6 separate regions of the Homo sapiens genome follow, and regions 1, 2, 3, 4 and 6 are each linked to region 5. Evidence: fine-mapped expression QTL. A gene starts in region 5. Each other region holds a variant in brackets. All regions are shown on one strand. Distances are from middle to middle. Region 1 overlaps ZCCHC24 (zinc finger CCHC-type containing 24). Region 2 overlaps PPIF (peptidylprolyl isomerase F). Region 3 has its middle 14 kb from the start of PPIF. Region 4 overlaps ZCCHC24 (zinc finger CCHC-type containing 24). Region 5 holds the start of ZCCHC24 (zinc finger CCHC-type containing 24). Region 6 has its middle 23 kb from the start of ZCCHC24.

Evidence for each region. PIP is the estimated chance that this variant, and not a neighbour inherited with it, causes the effect.
Region 1: its variant is the best candidate, but not a certain one, in a credible set for the expression of ZCCHC24 in subcutaneous fat (GTEx, PIP 0.89).
Region 2: its variant is the best candidate, but not a certain one, in a credible set for the expression of ZCCHC24 in left ventricle (GTEx, PIP 0.62).
Region 3: its variant is the best candidate, but not a certain one, in a credible set for the expression of ZCCHC24 in whole blood (TOPMed, PIP 0.60).
Region 4: its variant is the best candidate, but not a certain one, in a credible set for the expression of ZCCHC24 in testis (GTEx, PIP 0.89).
Region 6: its variant is the best candidate, but not a certain one, in a credible set for the expression of ZCCHC24 in subcutaneous fat (GTEx, PIP 0.55).

The regions. Positions count from the first base shown.
Region 1 is chr10:79,377,495-79,382,442 of GRCh38, forward strand. ZCCHC24 (zinc finger CCHC-type containing 24) reads right to left here. Exons shown (of 4, transcript NM_153367.4): 4 at 4,831-4,948. Among named protein-coding and RNA genes, the nearest start is that of PPIF, 32 kb to the left of the region's middle. The variant C/T (reference allele first, on the strand shown) is at 3,003.
Region 2 is chr10:79,348,797-79,353,744 of GRCh38, forward strand. PPIF (peptidylprolyl isomerase F) reads left to right here. Exons shown (of 6, transcript NM_005729.4): 2 at 280-310; 3 at 869-957; 4 at 2,691-2,787; 5 at 3,521-3,596; 6 at 4,911-4,948. Among named protein-coding and RNA genes, the nearest start is that of PPIF, 3.8 kb to the left of the region's middle. RefSeq lists enhancers at 421-921, 2,924-3,424 and cis regulatory regions at 4,257-4,948, 4,264-4,948, 4,927-4,948. The variant G/T (reference allele first, on the strand shown) is at 2,484.
Region 3 is chr10:79,330,836-79,335,783 of GRCh38, forward strand. No RefSeq gene overlaps it. Among named protein-coding and RNA genes, the nearest start is that of PPIF, 14 kb to the right of the region's middle. RefSeq lists enhancers at 276-776, 451-1,650, 650-909, 777-1,277, 950-1,229 and cis regulatory regions at 768-1,268, 838-1,338, 881-1,381. The variant C/G (reference allele first, on the strand shown) is at 2,474.
Region 4 is chr10:79,401,101-79,406,048 of GRCh38, forward strand. All of the region lies in intron 2 of ZCCHC24 (zinc finger CCHC-type containing 24), which reads right to left. Among named protein-coding and RNA genes, the nearest start is that of ZCCHC24, 42 kb to the right of the region's middle. RefSeq lists enhancers at 1,846-2,654, 4,271-4,948 and cis regulatory regions at 3,090-3,590, 3,097-3,597. The variant G/C (reference allele first, on the strand shown) is at 2,786.
Region 5 is chr10:79,443,118-79,448,065 of GRCh38, forward strand. It overlaps ZCCHC24 (zinc finger CCHC-type containing 24), which reads right to left and starts at 2,507. Exons shown (of 4, transcript NM_153367.4): 1 at 2,078-2,507. The coding sequence starts at 2,323. It overlaps LOC105378383 (a long non-coding RNA gene), which reads left to right and starts at 3,124. Exons shown (of 4, transcript XR_946104.4): 1 at 3,124-4,948. RefSeq lists silencers at 2,360-2,419, 2,430-2,939.
Region 6 is chr10:79,466,123-79,471,070 of GRCh38, forward strand. No RefSeq gene overlaps it. Among named protein-coding and RNA genes, the nearest start is that of ZCCHC24, 23 kb to the left of the region's middle. The variant T/C (reference allele first, on the strand shown) is at 2,078.

The DNA.
Region 1 (4,948 bases), 66 kb before region 5:
GAGATGTGTGAGGGTGTGCATGTGAGGTGTGAGTGCACATGTGAGGTGTGTGGGTGTGCATATGAGGTGTGAGGATGCATGTGTGAGATGTGTGAGGGTGTGCGTGTGAGGTGTGTGGGTGTGCATGTGAGATATGAGTGCACGTGTGAGAAGTGAGTGCACATGTGAGATGTGTGAGGGTACACGTGTGAGATGTGTGTGGGTGCGCATGTGAGATGTGAGTGCGCATGTGAGTTGTGTGAGGGTGCGTGTGAGATGTGTGCATGCGTGTGTGAGATGTGAGGGTGCGTGTGTGATGTGTGGGTGCACGTGTGAGATGTAAGAGGGTGCATGTGTGAGATGTGTGAGGGTGCACATGTGAGATATGTATGTGGGTGCGTGAGTTGTGTATGAGTGCGCGTGTGAGATGTGTGTGAGTGCGCGTGTGACATTTGAGGGTGCGAATGTGAGATGTGTGAGGGTGCACGTGTGAGATGAGGGTCTGTGTGTGAGATGTGTGAAGGTGCACACGGGAGATGTGTGAGGGTGCGCATGTGAGATGTGTGAGGGTGCACGTGTGAGACGTGTGGGTGCGCGTGTGAGATGTGAGTGCACGTGTGAGATTTGTGGGTGCGTGTGTGAGATTTGTGGGTACACGTGTGATATGTGAGTGTGCGTGTGAGATGTGAGTGCGCATGTGAGATGTGAGGGTGCACATGTGAGATGTGTGAGGATTCACGTGTGAGATGTGAGGGTGCATGTGTGAGATGTGGGTGTGTGAGATGTGTGAGGGTGCACGTGTGCGGTGTGGGTGCGTGTGTGAGATGTGTGAGTGCACGTGTGAGATTTGTGGGTGCACGTGTGAGATGTGTGAGTGCGCATGTGAGATGTGTGGGTGCACGTGCGAGATGTGTGGGTGTGTGAGATGTGTGTATGAGATGTGAATGCATGTGTAAGATGTGTGAGGGAGCACGTGTGAGATGTGTGAGTGCATGTGCGAGATGTGTGGGTGTGTGAGATGTGTGTGAGAGATGTGAGTGCACGTGTGAGATGTGTGGGTGCGTGTGTGAGATGTGTGTGGGTGTGTGTGTGAGATGTGCGAGGATGCGTGTGAGGTGTGTGAGCATGTGAGATGTGAGTGCACTGTGAGATGTGAGGGTGCACGTGTGAGCTGTGTGGGTGTGCACATATGAGATGTGTGAGTGCACGTGTGAGATGTGTGTGGGTGCATGTGTGATGTGTATGGGATGTGAGTGAGCGTGTGAGATGTATGGGTGCACGTGTGAGATGTGTGTGAATGTACGTGTGGATGTGTGAGTGTGCGCATGAAATGTGTGTGGGTGCGTGTGAGATGTGTGTGTGCGTGTGAGATGTGTGAGGGTGCCCGTGTGAGATGTGTGTGTGTGAGATGTGTGAGGGTGTGGGTGTGAGATGTGTGAGTGTGTGTGTGAGATGTGCGAAGGTGCGCGTGTGAGATGTGTGAGGATGCGTGTGTGTGTGGGCAGGGGGAAGCAAGTGGCCCTGACATCTCAGTTGGGATCCAGCCTCAGAACAAACGGCAGGGAAAGTGTCGAGAGTGGCCTTTATACCCAAGCGCAGCCCGTTCTTGGCTCCCTCCAGTTCTCTGGGGGAGTAGCAAGGACACCTGACTTTGGAGAGATGGCAAGCCCACCTCGGCCCTCATTCCCTTCATCTGGGGTATTCCCTGCCCCTTCTCCCCACTTCCAAACACCTGGGCAGGAGCCGGGCACAGGCTGCACAGGAGGCAGCCCCTGGAAGGGTGGCATTCAGATGCCTAGCCCTGGGTTTACCAGGCTGTAGGGAGGAGGACCAGGGTCTCTGAGGAGGGCAGGTGGGGGCTTGACTCCCCAGCAGACTATGGGTCCCAGGCTTAGCTCAGAGCTCTGGGCCAGGTCCCAGGACACACTGACAGACAGCTGTTTGCTGAAGGAAGGACTGGACAGGCTGGTGGGAATCCGCTCGGTGGCCCTGGTCAGGATCGGAAACAGCGCAGACAGTGGAGGTTGAAGGGTGTGGTGGAGGTCCCTGCTTGTCAATCTGGGGCAGCAGGGCTTCCCCAGGCCTCAGTTTATGCACCCGACATACTGACATGTTGTTCTCTGCCCTGGCTTCTGCCAGGACTGTTAGGAGGATGCATGAGGCCAGAAAACCGGGAGGAACTCCAGCCTATGGCCGGAGTCCAGCGCAGAAGCCGGCTGGTAGCCTGAGCCTGGGAGCTTCAGCACCACAGTGGGGGCTGGTGGGAGAGAGGTGGCCACCCCAGGGCTGTGTGCGGGAGCTGCCCAGGTGTCTCCTGCCACTCAGTGTGTCCTGATTGCCCCCAGCTTACAGATAAGGACATGAGGCTCTGTGTCACACATTCCAAGTAGAGCCTTGTCAGGGTCCTGCCAGGGGGGGCCCTGGGCTCCCGATGGGCTCTGGTGCTCAGGCGGTTGAGCTCCCGCTGTCTCTCCCCAGGCCAGGTCTCCCCTCTCTGTGTCTGGAGCAGATGCCAAGGGGGCTCCTCACAACCTGGCAACCATCACCACTTGGCACCAACCTACCCCACCTCCCTTCCTCCTGCCTGGTCTCTTGCCCTTTGAGACCACCCAGCCCTGGACCCTCACTCCTGGTCTGACCTTTGCAACTCTGTGTCTGTCCCAGCTCTGCCCTGATACGCTGCACTGGGAGGTGAGAACTCCAAGTTCAATCAAATCCTGGCTCTGCCACCTGCCTGCTGGGTGAGTGTGCTAGGTGAGACCTTTCCCGGTGGGGCCTCAGCTTTAGCCCAGAGCAGGGCCACCCTCTCTGGATCCCTTGCCGGCCATTTCTTTGGTGGACTCTGCTCTCTCCTGGGTCCTCAGCAGCCAGCTGCCTCTGGATATGGGCACTGAGTCCAACCGGAAATCCTTCCTGTCCAGGGAGTTACTGGTTTCCACGGCTCCAGGAGATGTTGAAATGCAGGCTGTTTGCCTTGGGTTTGTGTTCTTTCCACAGAAAACAAAACAAAACAAACACACAGG[C/T]GCATGCACACTGCCACACACTCAAAGACAAGGGCATGTCATCAAATAACAGCCCTGAAGCCCCAGCCTCAACATGCATGGGTGCCCAGTCAATGCTTACTGGGTGCGCAAAAGCACCTGGGGCCCTGGGTTCGAGGCCTGGCTCCCTGCGGAATCCCTGGTGTGATCACTGGTCGGATGCTTCTGCCTGAGCCACAGACAGTGGGAACAGGAGACCCACACTCCCCGGGCCCCTCCTGGGTGCAAGCAGTGCGCTTTGTCTTGTGTTCAGTGGGTTGTCTTATCCACACAACACCCCGGGGAGAGCTGGGGCTTGGAGAGGGGGAAAGCCACCCAGTGTCACACAGCTGGGGTGGCAGGGCTGGCCTGGTGGCAGTGCTGAAGGGGACAGGAGGACCCTGAGACAGACACCGGCTCTGTTTCCTCAGATCTGCCCAAGAAGAGCAATAGCCCCACCCAGGCTGCTGGAGGACTTGAGCTGGCAGAGGGCATGGTGTGGAGGAGGGGGTCCATTCTCCTCTCACCCTGGCGGAGATGGGTCCCCTCTCCACTCCCTTGCTGGGCCCGACTGGCAGCCACCTGCTTTCAGGCCAGTGACTCTGGCCATTCCACACACTGAGGGCAGGCACCGCGCAGGGAATTCTCTAGATGCAAATCAGCAGGAAGGGGCTTTGTTCTGGGATTTGCTCTGTACCCCAAATAAGACAGGAGGTCTGGCCTTGGTGGCCTCTGTTCCTGCCTTTCCCTCCCCCTTCACATCCATGGTCCCTGACCCCAAGGACTGGCATTTTGTTTTCTCTGCTCCATCTCAGAGGCCACAGTCAGGGGCCGTGGGATGGCCCATAGGGATGTGCTTTGACTTCTACACTATTCAAAAATCCAGTTAACTCTTTAACTCGTTGCCAAAATTTAAAACATGGAAAATTTCACATAACAACTGGGATTTCCAGTTTTTCTCCTGCTGCCCCTCCCTCCCTCCCCAGGCAACAACATTCATAGATAGCAACAGTTGGCTGGAGCTGAGGACCGGGCGCCCCCTTGACAGGACTCTCTGCCCCCTGCCTCCTCCCCATCACCGTGGGTCCCACAGGAACACTAGGGACCATCTGAAGTCCAGTGCTGCTCAACTTTGGATGCACAATGGACTGAGCTGGGGGGCTTTACAAACTCAGACACCCTGGACCACTTCCTTGGCCTCCCTGGGGTGGGACCAAGGCATGATGTTCTTAAAGCCCCGCAGGTGACTCAGGTGAGCAGCAAGGTTGAGAACAGCAAGAGCCGATGCTGGGCTTTGCAGGTGGGTGGCTGCTGATAGTCTTGCTTCGTTGTGGTTCCCCATGACCCTCAGCAGGAGCCCCACCTCATGACAGCCCAGGCTTTGGTCAGAAGAGGGGCCCCTGCCCCGTCTCCCCTGGACTGATCTGTTTGCTCACTGTGTGATGCTCCCTGTCTGGGCCCATATCCTGATCTTGGCCGAGTGTGCCAAGTGGGAGCGGCCCAGGGCTGCCGTCTCTGAGGCAGATTCACTCCTATATATGGTCACCCGGGAGTCCCCCCGCTGAGTGAACGCGTGACCTCATCTGCCGACAATCTCACCCAGTCTGGGGCCAACCTGGGGAGGGCCGTTGCCCTGGAGAGTGTACAGTTGGGGGCAGAGAGGCTGGGAGGAGGCAAATCAATGGCATGGAGGCAGGGCAATGACAAGATGACCCAGACCCAGGGGAGCTGAGGCCAGCCCCAAGTCTCTCTGATGCCTGCCCCGTCTCCTGCCTCTGAAAGAGTCCAGCCTCCCTACATGCTTGCGTGAACAAGGAAACCTGTGAGCCTCTTTTGCTTTTAAAAGTCCTTTTAATACAGCATGAAGAGGCTATATTTCTATAGGCGAGCCGTATACAGATTCTCCAGGAATAAGGCACACAACGGAATGCCATCCCAAGGGCTGCACT
Region 2 (4,948 bases), 94 kb before region 5:
TGCCAGCTGTGTCCACAGAAGTAGGCCAAGATAGCATTGTCATCTCTTCTGACAGATTAGGAAACCAAGGCCACCTCCTCCAGCCTTGGGTTCAGGAAACGGCTCCCAGAAATGATAGAGCTGCCTCCCATGGGGGTTGGCAATAATGGGAATGGAATGTCCACGTGCTTCTTCCTTAGCCTCCTTGGCCACTGTGGGGGTGGGTGGGTGCTGAGAGACACCCACCTTCACCTGCCTCTCCAATGACCATCCTCTTTTGTCCTTCTTCTCCCCCAACAGCTGAAGGCAGATGTCGTCCCAAAGACAGCTGGTAAGACAGGGCCTGGGGCCTTCTGAGATGGGTCTAGAGGGAAGGGGGCCAGGCAGGGCAAGGTGGGTGGCGTGATGAGAAGAGTCGGGGCTCAGAGACCCCTGACAGATGGGAGCTCCATGTGTGGCTCAGCCATTGGGTGCTCTGGGGCAGCCCTGCCATCCCTCTCTGGGCCTCAACGTTGGCTCTGCCCTCCTCTCTCATAGTAGCTGGGAGCCTCAGAGCCAGTGGAAGGCACATGTAAATTTCCCGGAGACTTCCCCACTCCTGGTGCCCAGTGAGGCAGGGTGATGGGCACACAGCCCTTGAGTCCGTGCCCTGCTGGCCAGCACAGCCATGAGCCTGTACTCTTGTCACAGTGCTCAGGTACTGAGGACAGGGAAGGGGAGTGACTTGTCCAGTTACATAGCGAGTTGGGCAGAGCAGACCCAAGAGGTGGGCCAGAGTCTTTATCCCCCTGTTCACTGCTGGGGATGTAGCAGGGATTTTGGCTGGAACGGGTATGACCCTGGAATTGGGGCCTGGCCCTGTTGACCTGTGTTTCTCTTCGACCCTCAGAGAACTTCAGAGCCCTGTGCACTGGTGAGAAGGGCTTCGGCTACAAAGGCTCCACCTTCCACAGGGTGATCCCTTCCTTCATGTGCCAGGTAATGTAGTTTCCTCTTCTGTAAGGGGGGATGAGAGCAGGAGCTGCCTTGTGGGTGTGTGAAGATGCCTGGTATGAGGAAGGTGCTGAGCAGAGCAGCTGCAGTTGCTCTGTCAGCCAGGCTGCCCTCCCTGCATTAGCCCTGTATCCAGGCTTCACTGCACATGGAAGCCCAGCCCCAACCCGCTGCCACTCCAGGTCAGTGGCAGGCCCTGCCCGGGGGACTGGGAGGTGGAGTCTATCAAGAGAGAGCTGGGTTGGGAGATGGATGTGCTGGGGGTGGCCTTGAAGACTTTGAAGAGCCAGCATATTCCAGTGGTCTCTGACCTTGTCCCCTGTGTGCCCCTGAGCACTGGTGTGGGAGATAAGAGAGGGAGAGAGAGAAGTGGAGGAGGCGGAGGAGGAAGACAGGTCCAGGGCAGGAACACACACGCCAGGACTTGGGGCTTCCCTTCCCAGAGAAAGGCATTATTCTCGGTGAAATGAATGTTTTTCGGTCATGTGTCATGCTCAGTTTTCACAAGCATTGGTATTGCTGTGTCAGAGGTTTGGGGGTAGGTGTTGTAGCAGGAGCTTCCTGTGGGTCAGGACCCAGGTGGTGTTGGGGCTGGTCTTCTATTAGCACAGACCTTCAAGATCAGGGATTGGGTGTCCTGGGCAGGCAGAGCCTGGAGGCAGGGGCATGGCTGTCATGACCTCTTTGAAGACCTTCCTGCCTGGAATTCTCTCCCCATTCCCTCCACCCTGACCCAGTGGCCGTCATCGTACCGTGGTAAGTGGCAGCGGGTTGGGACTGGACGTCTATGTGCGGCGAAGCCTGGATACGGGGTGAACACAGGGACGGCAGGCCTGGCCCAGCCCTAAGGCTGATGGTAAAGTAGGAGCTGAGGTGGAAGTCCTGAGCCAGGGTGGGAACTCCAGCGCGGGAGGGCTCCCTGGCACAAGGCGGTGGCACCGGGAGTCCAGACCAGAGTCCTGAGTCATCCGTTGGGAGGGATATCAATTAGGGAGCACCTAATTGACACCTGTGGATGCTTCAGCTGGGCTGGTCAGTTCCCCTCTCTTACCCACGGATCCCATCTCAGGAAAACAGCAGCCAGCCATGGCCTGGGCTGGGCAGCGCTAGGCATAGGGGCTGCTACCAGGCTCTTCTGGCCATGGGTGCCCCATGCAGGTTTGGCCACGGCTGCCTGGGCCTTAGCTGAGGCCTGAGGAAAGATGTCAGCCTTGGGCAGACTCTGTCCTGGGTCTGCAAGGGTTGGGAAAGCTGCTGGGCTGGGTAAGGGGCAGTGCGCGGACAGTGAGGGGACTCGGCCTGGGGAGCTGGTCTGGACCAGCTGCTGGTACTCCCACAGACTAGACTCGGGAACTGGGGGGCCTCTGGCCTCTTCCTTGTTGCCCTCCAGGAGGAGTGGGTTAAATTCTGGGTCACTAAGTATCATCTCAGAATGGCCTTTAGGTCTTTTGAAGATTACTTAAAAATTTGCTCAGACAAAAAGTAAGTCATTTGGAAACAAAGGTAGTTAC[G/T]GTGACAAAAGATATTTAAGTTTTGTCTTTTTTTTTTTTGCTTATTATTCTTATTATTAGCTCTTATTTTATTGGATGTTTATTGACCCCTTTACCTGAGGGGCGCCAACTGGGTGGGCTTGGGTGGGCTGAGGCTGCTGCCAGCGCCAGGGCCGTGGCCCCCGCCTGCTCCATGGTAGCCACTCAGAAGGTGCTTTGTGCTCACAGGCGGGCGACTTCACCAACCACAATGGCACAGGCGGGAAGTCCATCTACGGAAGCCGCTTTCCTGACGAGAACTTTACACTGAAGCACGTGGGGCCAGGTGAGTGGGGGCCTCCTCTAGGGTGAGTGTCCCCACAGCTCTGACCTGGCCTGGAAGCCCCAGCAGGCCCTGAGAGGCCACATGCAGTCACCGTCCAGTATCTGATGAGTCTCCTTCCTCCCTGCGACACTGTAGGCTGTCTCAGCATTTCTGGCTTGTTGAGTTTCCCTAGAGTTTTCTCATCTCTCAGTTTAAAAAGCAGGGTTTCCTTTGGGAACTTTGTGGAAGAACCTTTAAGCAGAATGGAGGCCCTGGCCACCTCCCTGTTTGTCCTCTGAGTTTCGGGTTGGAAATTCTAGGACACTTAGAATTGTTGCAGAATGGTCCTTAGGTCCTTTGAGGATTATTTAAAATCTTGCTTAGATAAAAAGCAAATGGTTTGGAAGCCAGAGTGGTTATTGTGGCAGCATCGTGTCACCTATAAGACCCAAGGTAGAATGTGGAGATGTCTGGAGGTCAGGTCCTGGGGTCCTGCCCCAGGTCCCGCCCCAGCTCTACCACTGAGAGCTTCCACAAGGCCCTGTCCTCTCAGGCCACCCCACTGAGAACTAGCAGGCAGCAAAGGCAGGCATACCCTGGGGGGCTGGTATCGGGCCCTGGTTCTCCTCTTCTGGGTCCCAGGATCTGCAGACTCGAATGTCCCTGGTGTGGTTTGCACCGTCTGCCCTTTCAAATGCCCTCCCAGGCAGGTGCCTCCAGGGGCAGCGTGGCTCAGCCCTGCTGGTTTTTGCAGGTGTCCTGTCCATGGCTAATGCTGGTCCTAACACCAACGGCTCCCAGTTCTTCATCTGCACCATAAAGACAGACTGGTGAGTTCCCTGCCCCAGGCCCTCTGGGAATGCGGGCAGCCTTGCAGCTGGAGGAGGATTCGTGCACTTTTAGGGGCAGGCAGTTTACAGCCAGGCCTTCTGCTCTGGGACAGTGGCCCTCTCCCAGGCTGTGTGTTTGTATGAGAAAGAGAAAGTTAGTGGAAGGATCAAGGGAGAATTGGGGTTGTTCCTGCAACTCTGTCATGGTTCGGGTTCCCATTGTTGCTGTCACCTGGAATTTTCTGAGTGTGTTCTGCTCACACGCACACACGAAAGGGTTTCTCTACCAGATACATTTGGGAAATGTTGCAAAACATATTATGAGGCCTCAGGAGGGACTGAGTAGAAGCCCACTTGTGTGGTTTTAACCTGGAGTTTCCCAGGCTTGTCTTGACCATGGGCTGAGCCTTGGCAATGCTGCAGCAGACATTTGGATATCAGCAAATTTCCAAATGAAGCCTCTGTATTATCATAAACCTGCAGATAGCCACAGGCCTGTAAGGGCCCTGTTTTCAATGCCCATGGATTTTAGGGATGTCTCTTTCCTGGTACATTTTCCTCTAAGGGATAAATTTCTCTGGCCAGAGTCCCAAATGTCCTAGCCCTGGGGCACCTGGGGATGAACTGGCTGGGAGCTGACTTGGTAAAGCCCATTTCCGAGGATTTTAGGGAGACCTAGGTGGGGCAGACACTAGAAGTGTCCAGCCTCCAAGCCCAAGAGATGTGGCCGGCAGGGCTGGGCAGGTCCTTGCTGGCTCAGCCTGCTCTTTGCTCCTTCATGGGACCCCAGTGGATCCTGCAGTTCTGCTCTTGGCTGGAACCACGCCAGCTTCGCTGGAGCTGGACTGAGCCGCCTTTTACATTATTGGACTCTCTCGGGTTGAGAGCTGCCCAGGACTCCTGCAGTTTCACCACCCTTGTTCCTTTGACTCTTGACTCATCATTCATGACCGTTAACGTGGTTCCATTTGTATGGACTTCTTCTTTCTTCAGAGCATTTCAGTATCCTGTTACCTCCCCATGCAGAACAAAGAATACTCCACTTTTGATAGATGGGGTTACCAGGATTCAGGCTACATGGCCTGAGGCAAGGTCACAACATGAGTGACAGAATGTGTCCTGGAAGCCAGGCATCCTCTGGGGTGTATTTGGGGCGCTCAACAAGGCTTGATCGAGCTTTGGGGGTAGATCTAGCTATTCCATGGGGATTCTTTTCAGAATTGCTGTTTTCGGTAACTAATTCCATGACCAGGTCCATGGCATTGGATGACATTGCGCTACACTGTTGCTCACCCGGGTCACCCGTCCTCACAGGTTGGATGGCAAGCATGTTGTGTTCGGTCACGTCAAAG
Region 3 (4,948 bases), 110 kb before region 5:
CCACAAAGCTCATTTCTGGGGGGTAGAAGTCAGCACAGAGGGTTTTTTGGGTGTAGGCTGGGTGACTGGAGGCAGGGGTAGAGAAAACTTTCCAAGGTAATTGAAGTATTCTATGCCTTGACATGACTGGGTATTGGTCGCACAGGAGTATGCATTTATCAAAACTCTTTAAACTTCATTCTTAAGATCCATGCATTGTATTGAATGTCAATTATGCCTGAATAAAGGAGGGGGAAAATGTTCCACCTGGAAGAATGAAGGAGACTGGACTTTGGGGCTAGGATTGGAGGGCAGGGAGGGGCCTACTGCAGTCTCTAAGGTAGGGGGCCGCAGAATGGGGAGGAAGGATGGACCCGAGGGATGCCAAGGAGGTATAGAGGAAAGGGTGGATGCCTGATTGGCAGGAGTGGGGTCAGTGGGAGAGAGAGGGGGCAAGGGTGACTCAGGTTCCTCTCTTGGCACCTGTGATGGGTTAGTCCTCAGCCTGGTCCAGCTCCATCCCGTGGGCTTCCTGGCTGAGTGAAGCCAGGCCCCGGCTGACTCACTTCTGACCATGAGGTGTGCCCTGCCCTGGTCAGCCGGCCTCACAGGCTCACCTGTGTCAGCCTCCTGTGATGCTCCCTGACTCGCGGGAGGAGAAGCCCAGATGACTTGGGCTTTGTGCAGTCAGCTGACAGAGCCCTCTAGCTCTCCAGATGTGCTTGGCAAGCCAGTTGGGCTCATGGGTGGCTTGGGGTGCCCAGGGAACCTTCAGAACCTGCATTGAGAATGGCCTTGGAAGTGTAGCACAATCTTTCTGTATTACAGAGGAGAAGACTGAGGCCCAGGAGGGCAGGAAGTAGCTCCAGGTCCCCCTCTTCCCACCTCCTCCCTATTCCCCTCTGATTTCAGCTCTGCAGCTGGTACAGTGGCCCACACTGGAGACAGAGGAGGGGCAGTGGTGGGAAGCCCCCAGGAGTCATGACCCCTCAGAGTACAGCACACTAGGGTGCGGAGGCATAGACACCCTTGGCCAGCGCTCTCTGAGTGCCTCAGCAGCTCAAGTGTGCGGTGGCCTTGGGAAGAGCTGGTGGGAAAGTCCCAGGCATGTGTCATCCTGTTGTCATCTATCCCACCCCGGGGACTTCCCCATATGAGCATCTTCTCCTCGTCATCTAGCCCAGCCCCCTTGCCTCAGACAAGGACTTCTCAATTCCCGTGAGATGTATTATGCTGTGTTCTGAGAACCAAGCCTCTTGGAAGGGGAGGAGAGATAATGCACCTTCTGGGCTCTGCTTCCACGCCAGCACACTGAACTCTTCTGGAATAAAGGAATTGTGTTTGTGTTTTAAAAATGCTTTATTGAAGTATAACAAAAATATAATGAGTACACAGATCATCAATGTAGAGTTTGGTAAATATACACATATGTACACCATGCAGATCAAGATTTAGAACACTTCCAGGACTCCAGAAGGCTGGCTCCCTTGTACCCACTTCCAGTGACCCCCTCCCCCAAAGTAGCCCCTATTCTGACTTATCTCACCATAGATTAGTTTCACCTACTCTTGTACTTTCCATAATCATATAGCATATCCTCAAGATTTTTGTAGCCTCTAGTCCCAGCTACTTGGGAGGCTGAGGTGGGAGGGTCGCTTGAGCCCATGAGATGGAGGCTGCAGTGAGCTGTGTTTACACCACTGTACTACATCCTGGATGACAGAATGAGACCTTGTCTCAAGGGAACAAAAAAGGACTCAAATTAAAAATTTTTAAAAATTAGTGTGCCACAGATGCCGAGGTCTTCGGCCATGCCAATTGTCACTTGAGCTTCTAAACTGTCCCCATTAGAGTCAGGGCTCATCCTCTGAAGGGGCCGTGCTTCCAATCTTCCCTGGTGCAGTGATTTTAAAACATGCAATTTCTTTTCCACCCCTGGCATTAAGAGGTGGAGTCTTATTCCTCTTCCCTTGAATATGGGCTGGCCTCTGTGACTCACTTCTAACCAGCAGCATGTGGCAGAAGTAAGGCCATGTGTCTCCCGGCAGTAGGTCATGAAAGCAACACAGCTACTGCCCGGGTCTTGCTCCTGGGCTCTAGTTCTTGATACCCAGCTCCCACACCATGAGGAAGCCCAGGCCACATGGAGAGGACACAGCCTGTGTTCCAGCCGACTGCCCGGCCGAGGTCTCAGCTGCCAGACACATGAGTGAGATTCATCCATGTTGCTGCCTGCATCAGTAGCTGTTCTTTTTTATTGCTGAGTAGTATTCCACTGTATGGATGTACCACAATGCATGTATTCACCCTACTGTTCATGGGCACTTCGGTTGTTTCCAGTTTGAGGCACCTATGAACATTCACTTGAAGTATTTGTGTGGACATACATACTCATTTCTCTTTTTTAAATTTAAAATTTGTTTTTTTTGAGACAGAGTCTCTCTTTGTTGCCCAGGCTGGAGTGCAGTGGTGCAATCTAGGCTCACTGCAAGCT[C/G]CGCCTCCTGGGTTCACGCCATTCTCCTGCCTCAGCCTCCTGAGTAGCTGGGACTACAGGTGCCTGCCACCACGCCCAGCTAATTTTTCGTATTTTTAGTACAGACAGGGTTTCACCGTGTTAGCCAGGATTGTCTCAATCTCCTGACCTCATGATCTGCCCGCCTCGGCCTCCCAGAGTTCTGGGATTACAGGTGTGAGCCACCACACCCAGCCTTTAATTTTAATTTAAAAAAAAGTAGAGATGAGGTCTCATTATGTTGCCCAGGCTGGTCTCACACTCCTGAGCTCAAGTGATACTCGTTTCTCAGTCTCCCAAAGTGCTAGGATCACAGGGATGAGCCACCATGACTGGCCCTCATTTCTTTTAAATATATGCCTAGGAGTGGAATTTCTGAGTCATAGGTAAGCATATTTTTAGCTTTAGTAGATAACTGCCAAACAGTTTTCTAAAGTTATTGTACCAACTGACACTCCCACTAACAATGTATGGAAGTTCCAGCTATGCCACATCCTCAGCAACCCTTTTTAATTTTAGCCATTTTAGTGGGTATATAATAGTATCCCATTGGGGCTTTAATTCGCTTTGTCCTGATGACCCTAAAGATGCTGTCTGTCTACCTTCTCACATGATTATTGGTCATTTGGATACCTTTTTGTGTATATGTGAAATGCTTGCTCAAGTTTTTTGACCACTGTCTATTGGGCTGTTTACCATTTCTTATTGATGGATGTAAGTTCTCTATACGTAGTGAACATGAACTTTTGTCAGATGTATGTATTGTGACTATCTTGTCCTACTTTGTAGTTTTTTCCTTCCTTCCTTCCTTCCTTTCTCCCTTCCTTCCTTACTTCCTCCCTTCTTTCCTTCCTTCCTCCCTTCCGTCCCTCCTTCCTTTTCTTTCTTTTGATTCTCTGTTGCTCAGGCTGGAATGCAGTGGTATGATCCTAGCTCACTGCAACCTGGAACTCCTGGACACAAGCAATCCTCCAGCTTCAGCCTCCTAAGTAGCTAGGACTGTATACAGGCACATGCCACCATGTTCAGTTCAATTAAAAAAATTTTTTTTTTGTAGAGACAGAGCTGTGCTATGTTTCCCAGGCTGGGCTTGAACTCCTGGTTTCAGTGGATCCTCCTGCCTTGCCCTCCCAAAACACTAGGTTTACAAGCATGAGCCACTGCACCAGGCCTGTAGCTTCATTTCTTAATTCTGTTTCGTTAATGTTGTCTTTTGATGAATACAGGTTGCTAATGCTAATGAAGTCTAGGTTATCTGCCTTTTCTCTTATGTTTCATGCCTTTTGCAGCCTCTGTAAGAAATCTTTGAGAAGCCTGTTTTGTGCTGGCCAGGGTTATGCCAGCTTCCATTCTGTCCTTGCTCCAGTGTAGGAGTCAGTCCGTTATTTACTCTCCTGCCATCTGTCCATCAATTCACCTGCCCACCTATGCATCCACCCACCTACTCATCTCCCCATCCATACTCTATCACCATTCATACATTTACCCATCCATCCACCCACTGATCTACCAATATTTATTGCCATCACTGTGAGCTGAGTGATGACAGGTATTAAGAGACTGAGATGGTGGAGGAGCTACTGAGATGAACAAGACCTCCAAGGAGCTTATAATCTGATGGGAAAAGCACAATATACGCAAATCCTCGACAGATTTTTATCTACCCTCATGTTGTTCCGAAGTCTGTAGCTTTCATTCATTACTCTCCGGAACCTCCATCCATTTGTCCTTGTTCTGTGACACTCCTTCCAATATTTGGAGATTGTCTGATTTCCACAGGCCTGAGCTGCAAATAGAATACCCGACCTCCCTTGTTACAGAGACTTGGCCTTTATTGATGTGGCCTGAGATGGTTGCCAGCCCTGACCCATCAATGGCTTAAATTCTGCTTGTGAGCAGCCTGTATTCAGAGAAGTGTGACCCAGTGGGGGGACCACTTCTCCCAGGGCTGACTGACCAGCTGTGGGGGTTTGAAGGCTGGCTCTGTGGGACTGGCAGGTGGCCCAGTCTGGCAGCAGAGAGGCAGGCAGTGGGCCTCAGCAGGAGTTTCAACAGGCTGACGGAGTGGGCAGAGAGGAAAATGGGGGTGGGTATAAGCTGTCACACTAAAGGGTAGACTCCTTCCTGGCTTGAAAATAGGGTGGATTCTGGCTCTTTTTTGCCGGGTCTCAGGTCAAGCTGGGGCCTAGGGTCTTGAGGTGGGGCATGGGGATAGTGGCAGGGAGGTCAGTAGGCCTCTACTCCTCCTGAGAGGCCCCCATCTGGACTCTAGCCATGAACTGGGCTAAAGTACCGCAGCTCCCCAGCCCTAGCCTCTGCCTGCCTCTCTCACCTTGACCTCTTCCTAGGGGCAGTGGCTCAAAACCAACAAAAACAACAAAGATCCCGCCAGCCCTGTCCTCAACATAGCCAGGCCCTGGTCACTCCTCTGAGAACTGACTGCCCAGAACTCCCCAG
Region 4 (4,948 bases), 42 kb before region 5:
AGCCTGAGGCTGTGCCCTGCACGCCAAGACTCCAGGCTGCACTGTGCCCCAGGATGCACGGCCTCTGCCCTCTGGATATGGGTTCCAGCTATAGGCCTCGATACCTCCCAGCCTGAGGTATGTGCCTCACCCCCAGACCTGGCCTTGCCACTCCCATCTGCACAGGGGCGCAGGCCTGTGCCCTGCCAAACCCTGGGATGGAGAAATCACTGTTGCTCCAACATTGGGTATTTTTGGTCAGGGCCAGGCACTCTTTGTGTCCCGACAACCATCCATGAGCTAAGTACGGTTAGTCCCAGGTTTCAGATGGGAACGCTGACGCATGTAGAGGTTACATGGCTTGCCCAAGCTACGCTGCCAGGAAATGGGGTAGTCCAGATCCGAGCCCAAGCCACCTAACGTGGGCTCACTTTCTAAATTGCTACACAACATGCCAGGATTGCACAAAGAAGAGACCCACCAAGCCGGGATGGTGAGAAACGGGAAGGGGCCGCTGTTCTCATGGGTCCTGGCATGCTGGGGGCATCCCTCCCCATCTCTGGGCCTCAGTTTTCCCATCTCCAGAATGAGAGGTTGGACTGACTGCTGGGCAGGGTCACTGGCCTCCCAGGAGGCCCATAACTCAGCATGTGCCTGGCAGCCCACTCACGCTCCGCCCTCCCATGGAGCACAAGGCCGACCCCACCGTGCGTCCAGCTGAGAGGCTCTGGCTGGAGCCAAGAGGAGCAGGGGGAGGAAATAAAGAACAGATGGGCTGCCTGCTGGCCCCTGTCCTGCCCGGTCTGCCCAGTCTGCGTGCTTTCCTGCAGCCCGGCCGCTGAGGTGGCCCTGGGCTCCAGTCTACCTTCCCAGAGAGCAAGAGCCCCGGTCTCAGGAGTTCGAGAAAGACTTTCCACTGATGTAGAAACAGAGGCCACAGGGGTGGGGCAACTAGTCCACAGAGGGGGCGCAGGGCTGACCACGGACTCACGACCCCAGCCCAGGATCCTCTGTGTGGCCTTGCTGGCCCTTTCTGGAGGCCTTTACCAGAGGAGGCAGAAGGTCCCTGGTCATTCTCCCTAGTGTCTCTCCTTGAGCCTGGGGCAGTGCGGAGTAAACAGGGGATAGAGGTCAGAGGTCCAGGTTGGGCCCTGGCTCTCCCACGCCTGTCTTAGATACTTGGTTTTTCTTTTTTTTTCTTTTTTCTTTTTTTTGAGACGGAGTCTCGCTCTGTCACCCAGGCTGGAGTGCAGTGGCGTGATCTCCGCTCACTGCAAGCTCCACCTCCCAGTTCCATGCCATTCTCCTGCCTTGGCCTCCCAAGTAGCTGGGACTATAGGTGCCCGCCACCACGCCCGGCTAATTTTTTGTATTTTTAGTAGAGACGGGGTTTCACTGTGTTAGCCAGGATGGTTTCGATCTCCTGACCTTGTGATACGCCCGCCTCGGCCTCCCAAAGTGTGGGGATTATAGGCGTGAGCCACTGTGCCCGGCCAGAGCCTTGGTTTTTCTATCTTCCATGTGAGGGGGCTGCTCTGGTGGAGCTGGAGACACTAGCATTCAATGAGCACCTACAATGTGCCACACGCTTTCTGACCTGGCTCTCCAGAGCTCTTTCATTTAACAGGAGAGCAAACTGAGGTACAGAGAGGCCAAGCAACCTGCTCAAGGCCACACAGCCATGGAGCCAGAACTTAAACCCAATTTGCTGACTCCAAAACGACACTTTCCACTGAATGTGCGGCCTCTCCGTGAGACGGTTGAGAGAAAATTAAAGAAAAAGCCTGCTCCTAGGAACACAGCCGCACCTCTTACCTCCGACCCTGGCCACCACCTCAATATTCATTTGTTCACCTAATTTACACTGAGCACCCACTCTGCACCAGGCTCTGTGGAAAATTCCAGAAATATGGAAACAAGACAGATGAAGAATGCCCTGTCTTCATGGAGCTCTCAGTCCAAGGCCTTCCAAAGAAGTCAGCCCTGTGACCCTTTCCCCAACCGTGACCCACACCAGTCGCGAACTCCCCTAGCCACATACTCCTGGGCTCAAGCCCAAGTCGGACTCACACCTGTGAAAACACACTTGGATTCACGCCCTCAGGCAGAGGCCAGACAGACCTCCCAAGTGACAGGCATGGGACCTATGCATGCCACATGAAATTATCTCTGATCACTGCCACGGCCTCATTGAATCAGCACTCTTAACCCTAATGACGGATGAGGAAACTGAGGCTCGAGACAGGGGCAGCAAGTCTGCCAAGTGCTGAGCCCCTGGCTTTTCCTTCCCCTCTGTGCTCTGTGGTACTGCTTTAGGGACCAACCAAAGACCTCCACACTCACATGTCCACATGCACGGCCGGGGGAGGCAGGTGGAAGGGCTGCGTCCCTGCAGCCTGGTCTGGGCAGCTGCAGGCTCCACGGAGGCCCCGGAGGAAGCAGGCGGTCAGAGGGACAGGTGGGCTGGGCCGCGGCCTGCAGGATGCTGGGAGGGAGGAAGGACGCGGCAAGAGGCCACCCGGGGCTTCCTCTGGAGCCTCAAGGGCCTCCTTGTCTGCGCACAGCCGTCCTCGCCTCCTTGCCCAGGGCCCCCTCCCCTCTTCTGGGTTCCTGCTGCAGCCCAGCATGGGCCCAGAAGGCCTGGCCTCTTGTCACCCCTCCCACCCCCGTTCCCAGCCCAAAGCCACCACAAAAATGCCATCCTGATTCCACAACACTAGGGTTTGTCAAAGTGCAAGGAACAATGGGAGCTTTCACAGGGACAGGAAAAGGCCTCAGGAAAACCCTGGGGAGGGGGGCATGGAGT[G/C]GGGGTGTGGAGAGGAGGGAAGGGAGATAGAGAGGAGAAAACAAGCGGGGGACAGAGAGATGAGGGAGAGATCCTGGAGAGACAGGGAGTGAGGACACGATGTTGGGAATGAGGGGCAGGGAGTGAGAGAGCGCCCGTCAGAGCAGATAAGAGGAGAAGGGGGGACAGGGTGCCCAGGAGAGGCGAGACATGATGCAGAAACAAACCAAAAGGGCTGGGAGACAGAGACATTCGGGGGAACGGGGCCCACAGAGGCCAAGGAGCCCCTCCAGGACCCAGAGAAGTGCCAAGCCCCCCAACACCCCGTGCCTCCAGCCCTGTGCCCGGCCCTGAGGCGCTGCTGCCCAGAAGGCAGCAAGAAGCCCCCTCTCCAAATCCCACCCCAGCCAGGCGATTTGAAGTAATCTCAGGCAAAACTTTTTGGAAAGCAAAGACATTTTAATCACATGAACAGCCACTCCCTAAGTTATCTGTTTCCTGCTCTGGCTTTCCTCCCTTAGCAAACCACACGGATCAGAGCGGAGGGGCGGGAGGGGAAGAGGGGCCGGTCCAGAGGGGTGGAAAGCTTCCGAATCACAGGGATTGCAAAAGACAGAGGTTTCCTCCGCCACTGCAGAGACAGGGATTGCTGGCTGCCTTAGTGGGTGGATGGAAGATCTGCAGCCACCCTGCTGTTTGCTGATTGCTGGAGGGGACTATTGAGTTTGAAAACCATTTGTTGTTTCCAGATCTTGCACATCCCTCTTTGGGTCCCGTTTGCTCAGCAAGACCTTTCTTCCGACTGCACCTCTCTCTCCTGCTGCAGTCACCGCCTGAGTTGGGCCAGGCAGAATCTCCCCAAATACTTAAATGAAGGCCCACTTCAGGTTTGGGCCTCACCGCAGAGCTGAGATGAAACATGCAAGGCATTCGGGCCCCTTCCCCTTCTGGCCCCAGCTGACCTTCCACCCACAGCACTTACACTCAAATAAAGAAAAGTCACTCCCTGCAAGTGACATGCTGCCCATCTGTGCCTTTTTCTTGCTGTTCCCTGTACCCAACACTTCACCAGTGAACAGCCATGTACCCTTCAAGAGCAAGCTCCAGGGGCACCCTGGTCTCCCTGGCCCAGAGAGGGCTAATGCACTGCTCAGGAGCTCACTCCACTGCTGAGTCCCAGGCTGGCTGGTGTGGAGATAAGAACCCACCCGCCGCCTTGCCCTGGAGAAGGCCCTCTCCCTGAACTTCCAGGGGACTCTGTGGTTTGCACCACACGCTTAGCTCCAGGAAAGGCGAGAGACATGATCTTCCCTAGGTCATGTCCTGCCCTGACCCAACCTCCAGCTTGCCAAACTCAGAGATTTCACCCGAAATTTAAACGAAATTCCCCTACTGCCATCTTGTTTCCCACAAGCCTCTCTGTGTGCTGCGGTCAGGTGCACCCTCCACACCTCTCACTTCTATGGTAGCACTAGGCTCAGGCTGGGGCTCAGAATCCTTTGGCAGCTGGAGGGGACACCAGGAGTGGCAGTGCCTGCAAAGGGTGAGGTGTGAGGTGGACAGCAGAAGTTAGGGCAGGGTGGAGGTCGCACAGGTAGGAGGTGGCAATGCCAGGGCTGATCATGGCGTGGGCTCTGTCCAGTCCCAGGACGCCTCCTTGGGCAGTGCTGAGCACCCTGGACGGCTGTCTTGAGCTAGCAGCGCCATTTGCACAGGGCAGCTGGCCCCTGGCTCTGTGTCTGAAGGCGTCCCTGGCAAGGCCTGGATAGACATGGCCGTGACCAGCCCAGCCTTCCCTGGCTGGAGGGAAGGTGGTGGGTCAAGAGGTGGAAAGGCCTCAGCCTGGAGTGAGGCTTTGGGTGTGAGGGCCACAGCCCTGGGAGGAGGGGACAGGGGAGCTCAGCTCAAAATAGTGATGGGGGAAGGGTGTGCAGGGTGGCCAAGTGCCAGAAAAGAAATCTGATCTGCCCTGGCCAGTGAAATGCTGAAGTCAGCAGTTTGGGGCCACTCTGGCAGAGGCCTGGGGGCTGAGGCCCCCACTGCTGCCTGGCAAGAGGCTGTGGGCGTGACTTCCAGCCTCGCAAAACCCTCACATAAATCACCTCCTCTCTCTGGGATTCGATCTCCTCATCTGGGTAGAAAGAGAAGCAAACTTTCCATCTCTGGGTGAGCGCTGGAGCTCAC
Region 5 (4,948 bases):
CCCTGAAGTCAGGTTGTGAAAGACATTTCCCCACCACTGCACTATACAGTATAACCTTTTCCTGCTCCTTTCACACTGTGTGACTTTATGGGGAAACTGAGGTACGCAGCAATGAAGTGACAGAGGGCAGTTCTCACTGAGCTCCGGTTGGGATCCTGGATGCCAGAAATTTTCAAAAAGCAGCACAACATCCTATTCTTATAGGGTACTCTTGATGGTTCCAAACTCCCAGGTCCTCTCAGGGGAGACCCACAGGTGGGGAACAATGCCACCATGGTAGGGGGAGCAGAGGGAGGCTAGAAGAGGTTGATTAGGGGTCCACACTTGACCTGTGGGTCATGTTCACCCTTCTCCCAGGGTGAGAAACTCCCGTGGGGCTCCCACAAGCACCCCCATCAAATCACCCACCATTCATACCCTCTATCACCTTGTCTGTTTACTCATCCGTGGCCCCCACTAGCCTGTGGCTGTGAATCCCCGGGTCCTGCCCAGAGCTCAACAAATGTTTGGTAAGAGAACAAACAACTGAAAAGACGCATGCACCAAAGAAACACCCCACAAACGGTCCTCCAGTCACTGGTCACCTGAAGCCAATTCCCTGAAGAGGCAGAAAAGTCTCTTACAAGAAAGAAAGATCCCCAGCCAAGAACCATTCCTCACGTGGAGAGAATGCTTTACAGTTTACAAAGAGCTTTGGCATAGAAATGCTTTTGCCTGACACCAAAGGGTGCACTTTCAGACTCATCTTCCTCCTCTGCACCCAGCCCCCTCCCACGCCTGTTCTACCCACCCAGGTCAACAGGTCAGCCTGGGTAGTGTTGGCCTTGGGCCAGCATTTTATATGTCCATGCCTCCCCTAGTAAATAATGGCAGAGTTGAACTCAAGGGCGACCCTCTGCCTCCCTCTCTTACCCCCAGCACACCCTTGCGTACATAGGCTTTCCTCCCCAACCCATTCAGGACTCTGACTCTCCTAAAACTCACCGGTGTGCCCAGGTCTGGAAGGAAAGTGACCCCCATGTGTGTCCTCCCCCGAACACACCTCTTGCATCTTTGCAGAGAAAACCCCCACAAGGGGAGGAAGTGAAGGCCACAGATGGGTGTCTGAAATTCCCAAATGAGGCAGGAGTAAATGGAGGGAGGGGAGGAGTCCAGCCCACGGAAAGGAGTGGTATCTGGGCAGGCCCTGGAGACTCTTCAAAAAGGGCTGGGAGGTGGTGGCGATCTGTGTATTTATCTTGCTGGCAAAGAGGCGCTGCCCAGTCAACTTTGTAACTGAATCCACCAAACAGGCAGACTTTGCAACACAGCCGGCCCAGGTTTCTGCAGAAGGCGCTGGGCAGCTGGAACCTCTCCCCCCCCCTTTCTAGCCCCCCTCCCAAGAGCTCAAGAGGATTTCCCTTTCATTTCCTTCGAGGCTGGGAGGGCTGGGGACAGCGCAGTCTGTGGGGTCAAGCCCTCAGAAACCACTTCCTATGTGGCTGGGGGAGGGCGAGCAGCTGGAGGACGTATCTGGGGTCCCCGAGTGAGAACAGCAGGAGAAGCCCTCTGGGCAGTCACTGCTCTCCAGGGTGCCTTTCGGGTCGGGAACCGCAGAGGTCGGAGAAAAGATTTTAGGCCCTTCCAGAGGAGCTCCGAGCAGAATCTGCACTCTCGGTCCCAGCCCGCGGTGGCCAGGACGAGGATAAGGTTGGGCGTGAGAAGGACACTTCGAAGGGGCTCCCCGCCCAGGCCGCACCCCAGCTGTCTGAAGAAAATCCGGAGACAACCCCTCCTCAACTCCCTCCCCCAACCCCTTTGGAGCAGGGCTGCCCTGGCAGGGAGAGGGGGCGGGAGAGCTCCGCCCCGGCCTGCATTGCTCCAGCCCGGGCTCAGCCGGGAGGTGACGCGCACCCGGCACCCCGGGGACTTCGGGCGGCGAGTTTGGCAGAGTTGAACGAAGCCAAGCCAAGCCGGGCCCGGCAATGCGGAGCCGGGCCGCGCCAGGCCAGGAAGAGCGGGTCAGACAGGGAACGGCCCGCCACGGTGGGGCGGTGGGGCGGTGGGGCGGTGGGCGGGGGCGCGCGGGGGCACCCACCTCTCCGCGCTGCAGCTGGAAGAAGCTGTTGAGATAGCTGGAGTGCAGGGGCGAGCCCAGCTGCTCGGGGCGGCCCTTGCCGAAGGCCAGCTCCGGGGGTGCGGCGCCGGCGGTCGGCTCGGGCCGGAAGGCATCGAAGGCGCTAGCCTGGTGCGTGTCCTGCAGCGACAGGTAGACCCAGTTGAGCAGCTGGGCGGGCTGGTACACCGAGGCGGCGCTCGTGTCGATGGCCGACAGCAGGCTCATTTTGTGGCGGCGGTGCCGGCCCCTCCCCGGCCGCCCGCTCGCGGCCCCCCTCCGCAGCGGAGGGGCGGGCACCGGGGAGCCTGTGCCCACTGCCCGCCTCCCGAGCCCCGACGGTGATCGCCCCGCGCCCTGCGCCCCGCGCGCTGCCCGCAGCCGCTGCCGCTGCCGCCGCCTCCCCCCGACTGCGGCCCCGGCGCGCGCAGGCGGTGGAAGGAGGCAGCGAAAGTTGGGCAGGAAACTTTTGGCCCCGCCCCTCCGCCCCGCCCACTGCGTCCCGCCCCGCCCGGCGATCCGCTATCTGCCTCGCGGCTGACCCCTCCAGCGGCGGCTCCGGGGGTGGGGTCCACGATGCCCCGCCGCCCACTCCCTGCCCCGCCTGGCACTGTCCTCGCCCTGCATTGGCTGTCTCGTTGAATATGAACCGTCAGGGGTGGGGAGAGAGGGGAGTGAGGCTCATCTGCATATGCAGCACGGCGCGGGCCCGCCCATGCGAGGCCCCGCCCAAGCCCCACCTCGTCCCAGCCCGGCCAACCCAGCTCCCCGAGCTGCCGGGAGCTCAGTGCAGCCCCGGCCTAATCAATTTCGTCTCCCTCTGTCGTCAGCGCTCTTGTCTCGTTCTTTCCAAATCCTCTGCAATTGTTTTTCACTCACTTTTCCTTTCCTATTTTCCCTCCTTTCTCATACTCCTTCTTTCTCTCTCTCTTAGACTAGTACTAGTCTCCTGTGTCCGTCGTCCTTGTATGTGGCGCCCTCCGTGTGTGTGTGTGTGTGTGTGTGTGTGTGTATGTCCTTCTCTTTCTCTCACTCTTCTTGTCTCCTTTCTTCTATTTCCGTCTGGTCTGATGTTTCTCCCTGTCTCTCCCGCTCCTCTCTCAGACGCGTGTACACAGACGCACACACTTCTAACTCCCTCCTCTCGCTATCACCATCGGACCCTCCCCCTCCTACTTAATTCCTTCCATCTGCAGAATCACTTTGCGGGCCGGCTGCGCCAAGGGGGGCCCGGGTTCCTGCCCCAGGAAAGACTCCCCGCCCCCTCCCCCCCCCCTTCTCCTATTTCTGCTCTGGGCCCGCCTCGCTTCTCGACCCTCTTCCTCCACCCCGGCTCCAGCCCTAGCCCGCCCCGGTGCCTTGGCGAGTCGCCAGGACACCAGCCTGGGCCGGGGGAGCTCGGGAAAGCGGCTGTCACCCATCTCGCTGGGACAACTCAGCTAGTCCAAGACTGCCTGGAGGGAGCCCCGCCCCCGCCTCCGCCTCCGCCTGACGCCCCAGGAAGCCCCGGGGCCTTCACCGTCTCTTTCTCCGGGTGGTCTTTGCTGCGCCAGCACCGGGGACCTAGCCCAGAGGAACTCACCGCCTGGCTGGGACCGAGTCACCTCTCCCACTTTCAGTCTGGCTCTGGAGCCATTCCGCCCAGCGTTGGAGTGCCAGCTTGGCCACCGTCCAGCGGAATGACCTCTGCATGACGCCTAACCTCTGCGAGCAAGCCTGTTTTCTCCTCTGTAAAATGGGAGCAGTCATCCTCCCGCCGCCGGGGACATTTGTGTGCTTCCCAGCTTGGGTTTGGTAAGCGGAAGATATTCCATAAAGGACAGCTCTTCCCCGCCACCCACTCCACGAGTTACTCACATCACCTGCAGGGCACCTAACCACATCTATGGTCGCTCGCACCACGAAGGCCTTCAGTGATGACCAAATGCCACCCTTTTTCACCAACCAAGAGGCCCTTGGATCTCAGATCTCCATCTTGTCTATCAATTTGCAGTTATTAATACAAACGACAGCATATGTATCAATCATGTCTTCATATTTTCATTCATCAAGAACACATCTATACAGTACCCTTTATATTTTTAAACAGTATTAAACCTATTTGTTTAAAGAGTAGGTACACGGTTCTTGCAAATGGCTCACCTGTAATCCCAGCACTTTGGGAGGCCAAGGCAGACAGACTGCTTGAGCCCAGGAGTTCCAGACAAGCCCTGGAAACATGGCAAAACCTCATCTCTACAAAAAAATGCAAAAATTAGCCGGGCGTAGTGGCGCATGCCTGTGGTCCCAGTTACTCAGGAGGCTGAGGTGGAAGGATCACTTGAGCCCAGGAGGTGGAAGCTGCAGTGAGTCGAGATCATGCCACTGCACTCCAGCCTGGGCAACAGAGTGAAACTTTGTACCCCCCGCCCCCACACCAAAAGAAATAGTTGGGATTATCTCTGGAACTCTGCTGCTGTCTTTGAGCTTCCAAGGATGGAGGTAGGATTTGGAACCACTGATAAGACCTTCCCTAGATTTTATAGAGAAAACTGCTGTTCAGGGAGGGGACATAACTAGGAATCTGACACCTGCTTAGAGAAACCTCTGATCCTTCCCTGTGTCCTTCAGAGTGATTTGATGCCAAGAAGGTGTTTATCATGCCTGGTGACCACATTGATGGCCTCTGCCTCTTTCTCCCCAACATAGTTTCTACCCAGAGCCTGGAGCATAGATAGTAAATAATCAGGAAATAGTTGCTGGGTTGATGATTGAATGAATAGGTGGAGAGACGCATGGATGCCCAGATTTTGCTCCTCTTTGAAGCCTGAGCGGCTTCTTTGGTTTTGTACTTTTCTCCCTCTCCTTGCCCAC
Region 6 (4,948 bases), 23 kb after region 5:
AATATTTCTTTAAAGAAGACATACAAATGGCCAATAGGTGCATGAGAAAATGCTCAATATCATTAGTCATTTGGGAAATGCAAATCAAAACCTCTGTGAGATACCACTTCGTACCCACTGGGATAGGCAAAGATGTGGAGAAATTGGAACCCTCAAACATTGATGGTAGAAATGTAAAATGGTGCAGCCACTATAGAAAACAGTTTGGGGCTGGGAGCAGTGGCTCACGCCTGTAATCCCAGCACCTTGGCAGGCCAAGGAAGGCAGATCGCTTGAGGTCAGGAATTCGAGACCAGCCTGGCCAACATGGTGAGACCCCATTTCCACTAAAAGATACAAAAAATAGCCAGACGTGGTGACAAGCGCCTGTAATCCCAGCTACTCAGGAGGCTGAGGCAAGAGAAACACTTGAACCCTGGAGGCGGAAACTACAGTGAGCCGAGATTGTGCCACTGCACTTCACCCTGGGTGACATAGGGAGAGTCTTGTCTCAAAAAAAAAAAAAAAATTAAAAAAAATTTTAAAAAAGAACACAGTTTGGTGGCTCCTCAACGAGTTAAACAGAGAATTGCCACATGACTCAGCAATCCCACTTCTAAGTCTATACCCAAAAGGATTGAAAACAAACAGGTACTTAAATAGTTGTACACAAATGCTCATAGAAGCACTACTCGCAATAGACAAAAAGTGGAAATCACCCAGATATCCATCAATGGATGAATGGGTACAAAAAAATGTGAACATTATTCAGCCATTACAAAAAGTAAAGTGCTGATGCATGCTACAACATAAATAAACTTTGAAAACGTTATGGTAAGTGAAAACGGCCATACTTAAAAGGTCAAATTTTGTATGATTCTATTTATATGAATGTCCAGAATAGGCAAATCTGTAGACACAGAAAGCAGCTTGTTGGATGCCAGGGGCTGGGGAGGGTGGAGGGATAATGGCAAGTGACCACTAGAGAGTATGGGGTTTCATTTCGGGGTGATGAAAATGTCCTGGAATTAGATAGTGGTAACGGTTGCACAACTCTGTGAATACACTAGAAAACACTAAATGTTGTATTTTAAAAAGGTGAGTGATATGTTATGTGAATCATATCTCAATTGAACAAAAGAAGGCTGTAGGCTGGGCATGGTGGCTCACGCCTGTAATCCCAGCACTTTGGGAGGCCGAGGCAGGCGGATCACCTGAGGTCAGGAGTTCAAGACCAGTCTGGCTAACATGGTGAAACCCCGTCTCTACTAAAAAGTACAAAAATTAGCCTGGAGTGGTAGTGTGTACCTGTAATCCCAGGTACTCAGGAGGCTGAGGCAGGAGAATCGCTTGAACCGGGAGGCGGAGGTTGCAGCCACTGCACTCCAGTCCAGTCGACAGAGCAAGACTCTGTTTCAAAAAAAAAAAAAAAAAAAGGCTGTAAACTCCTTGGTCAATTGTGAGAACTTGTTCTCCAGCGCCCCCTATGGGGGATCACAGACTCTGTTGCCTCCATGTTGAAGGACAGGATAGCCAGGGACCTGGAACAAGAGCCCTGGCAAAGTAGCTTGAGCAAAAGGGAAGATTTGCCAGATAGATGCAGAAATATCTGATGGTACCTGAGGGCAGCCAGGGCAGGACTTTCAAGGCAGTGAAGACACAAAGGGGGAAGCTGGCCGGAGCCCAGGCAGCCCCTCTCCCAGCCTCCTTCCTTTCTCTGCCCCAACCTCCTCAGGCTCCAGGGACTTCTGTTTTTCTCTGTTATGTAAGAATCCTCATGACCAGTCTGAAGGTTCTGTCTGCTTATCGGTGGCTCACCAGTGGAGCCCTGGAAACACCCGACCCTGGCACTCTATGTTCCAGCTCTAGGAGATAGTGGACCTGCCTGGCTTCTGGATTAATTCTCCGTGGTCAAACGTCCACTCAAAGTCCGATCAGCTGGACCTCAGAAGAGGCTGGAAATGGGCTGCTCCTCTTGGATCCTAAGGATGGTTTGTGTCACTAAGCAGGAGACAGACAGGGCTGAAGAACACAGAAACCAGGAACTCAAATATGCTGTGTCTCTTCTCTCTGTTTCCCTCCCTCTCAGCTCTCTCCC[T/C]GCACTGCACACTGGCAGCAGCTCCAGACCTGCACACCCTGGAGAAGGAAGGATTGGGATTCTTCCACTTCCAACCCAGTGAATCTGAGGGAAGAACTCTGCCTAATCCAGCTTGTCCTGAGGTCAAAGAAGCCCCAGAGGAAGGGTGATAATACTGCTAGGGCCCCCTCTATAGGCGTGTGCATGGGGTGGAACAGTTCCCAAGAAGGGGAGGGGAAGGCACAACTACAGTCATCTACTACAAGATCTATAAAAGCTGGGGAGAGGGGTTGAGGAGAGCATAGGACCACCAGCCTGTCTGATCAACATGTGAGGCCTTCTTGGAGGAAGGCAGGATTTCCAGAGTGTTTCCATGGTAGGAACGTTACTATTTGCCATCAAATTGCAGGATTGCTAGAACATGGGATTTGAAACCCCCTCAATGGATTCTGAAAATCAGGGAAGGTGAAGGGAAGACCTCATCAATAAGATACCGTAATACACAAGCCTGTTAGGAAGCTACCATGTGCTCGGTACTTCCCATTCCCCGAGCACCTCCTCAAATGAGTTCCTTTCACTGTTTTTCAGATAAGGGAAACTGAGGCTCTGAAAGGCATACTTATCTGAGCAGAGCAGGATCCCTGGAGGGCTCAGACTCCAGCCCAGACCCCTTCTATCATGGTGTACTGCCCCACCCTTTGCAGACCTCTTAGGTGGTGGGGGATCAGGCCTGGGACTAGATGAGGGGGACTGGATGTGTGTGGCCAGATGGGAGCAGCCTAGACCTCAGGAACTAAAGCTGCAGGGCACGTGGCCTTCCCTAGGCACTGCAGAGCTCTGTGGGAACTGATGAGGTGGGAGGAGGCAGTGTTTCTATGTGTGGGAGATCATATCCTTCCAATAAACACATGCGTGAGGGGCCTGGGGCTCCTCCCTGTGACTGAGGCCATTTGTTTCTAAGCAGTAAACTGTGACTGACCTGGAGACCAACCAATGCTTCCAGGGAAGATGCTCATCGGATGCCCTCCAGCTTCAAGATGGCTTCCTCAAGGGCCTCCCCAGCTCCCCACTCCAGATGTTGGGGCCCTTCTGTGACCACCATCTTTGAGGTGACAGGCCTGTGAGTGGTCAGTTTGTTCCAGAGAAGTCTTTGGGAAATGCAATCACTGTTTACACATTCCTGTTGGACTCAGATTTAGGACAGATGAAGCAGATGTGTCCTGGATATCCCAGAGGGGAGGGCTGGGCCCATGGGAGAAGACACAGGAAGGAATGTTCCGACTCAATATGAAGAGAGACTTCCAGGGGTTATAGACGTCTCTAGAATGAATGTGGGTTACTCTGGAGGAGTGAGCTCCCCTTGGTCTGAGGTATACAAGCTGAGACTGAATGTCACCGTGGAAGACAGATGAGGAAGGAATCACAGCAACACAAGTGAATTAAACTATGAGACTTTCAAAGTCCTCTCCCAGGCAGGGCCCAGTGGCTCACACCTATAATCCCAGCACTTTGGGAGGCAAAGGCCAGAGGATCGCTTGAGCTCAGGAGTTCGATACCAGCTGGGCAGCATAGAAAGTTTTGAAATGTTCTACAAAATAATTAAAAATTAGCCGGGTGTGGTGGTGTGTGTCTGTAGTCCCAGCTACTCAGGAGGCTGAGGTAGGAGGATCTCTTGAGCGAGGGAAGTTGAAGCTGCTGTGAGCTATGATCATGTCACTGCACACCAGCCTGGGCAACAGAGCAAGACCCTATCTCCAAAAAATAAAATAAAAAGAAAATGAAGTCCTCTTCCAGCCCTGATTTTTCAGGTTTCTATACTCTTCCTCTTGCAAGCTTTATTTCCACTCCACTATCACCTTTTGGTTTAGGGAAACAAATTATGTGATGAACATGGCTTCTGGCTTCTCAGTGTCCTTCCTACCCTCCCAATGTTCAGGAACTGCTGCCATGCAGTTCTAGGTGGGGAGGGGTGGGGGGCTTGTCCCGCCCCCAGCACTAGAGGAGGCCCTAGTTTGCCTCAGTCAGTCAGCATAGCCACATCTCTTGCCACAGTGGCTGCTGGGTGGGCAGTACCTGAAGACCAAGGCAGTCCAGAGAGAGTATTCGCTGGGACACAGGTTTTGGCTCCGGTGGAGGCATGGAGCTCAGCAGGGTGAAGCAGAGCAAGGCCCAGGACTTGTGTGTGATGATGGTGGGAGGGAGTGTCCCCTGTCTTTGGCCTGACGGAGGAAGCACATGCCCTGGTGCGACAGATGCGCTCGTGCCCTTGCTCATATTCTCCTATCTCGTATTACCAGCTTTTGCTTTTTATTTTATTTTATTTTATTTTGAGACGGAGTCTTGCTCTGTCGCCCAGGCTGGAGTGCAGTGGCGCGATCTCAGCTCACTGCAGGCTCTGCTCCCCGGGTTCACGCCATTCTCCTGCCTCAGCCTCCCCGAGTATCTGGGACTACAGGTGCCCGCCACCACGCCCGGCTAATTTTTTATATTTTTAGTAGAGACGGGGTTTCACCGTGTTAGCCAGGATGGTCTCGATCTCCTGACCTCGTGATCTGCCTGCCTTGGCCTCCCAAAGTGCTGGGATTACAGGCGTGAGCCACCGCGCCCGGCCTTTTTTTTTTCTTTTTTGAGACAGGGCCTCTATCACCCAGGCTGGAGTGCAGTGGTGTGATGATGGCTCACTGCAGCCTTGACCTCCCAGGCTCAGGTCATCCTCTCACCTCAGCCTCTTGAGTAGCTGACTACAGGTGTGCACCACCACGCCTGGCTAATTTTTGTATTTTTTTTGTGGAGATGGGATTTTGCCATGTTGCCCAGGCTGATCTCGAACTCCTAAGCTCAAGTGACCCTCCCACCTCAGCTTCCCAAAGTGCTGGGACTACAAGGATGAGC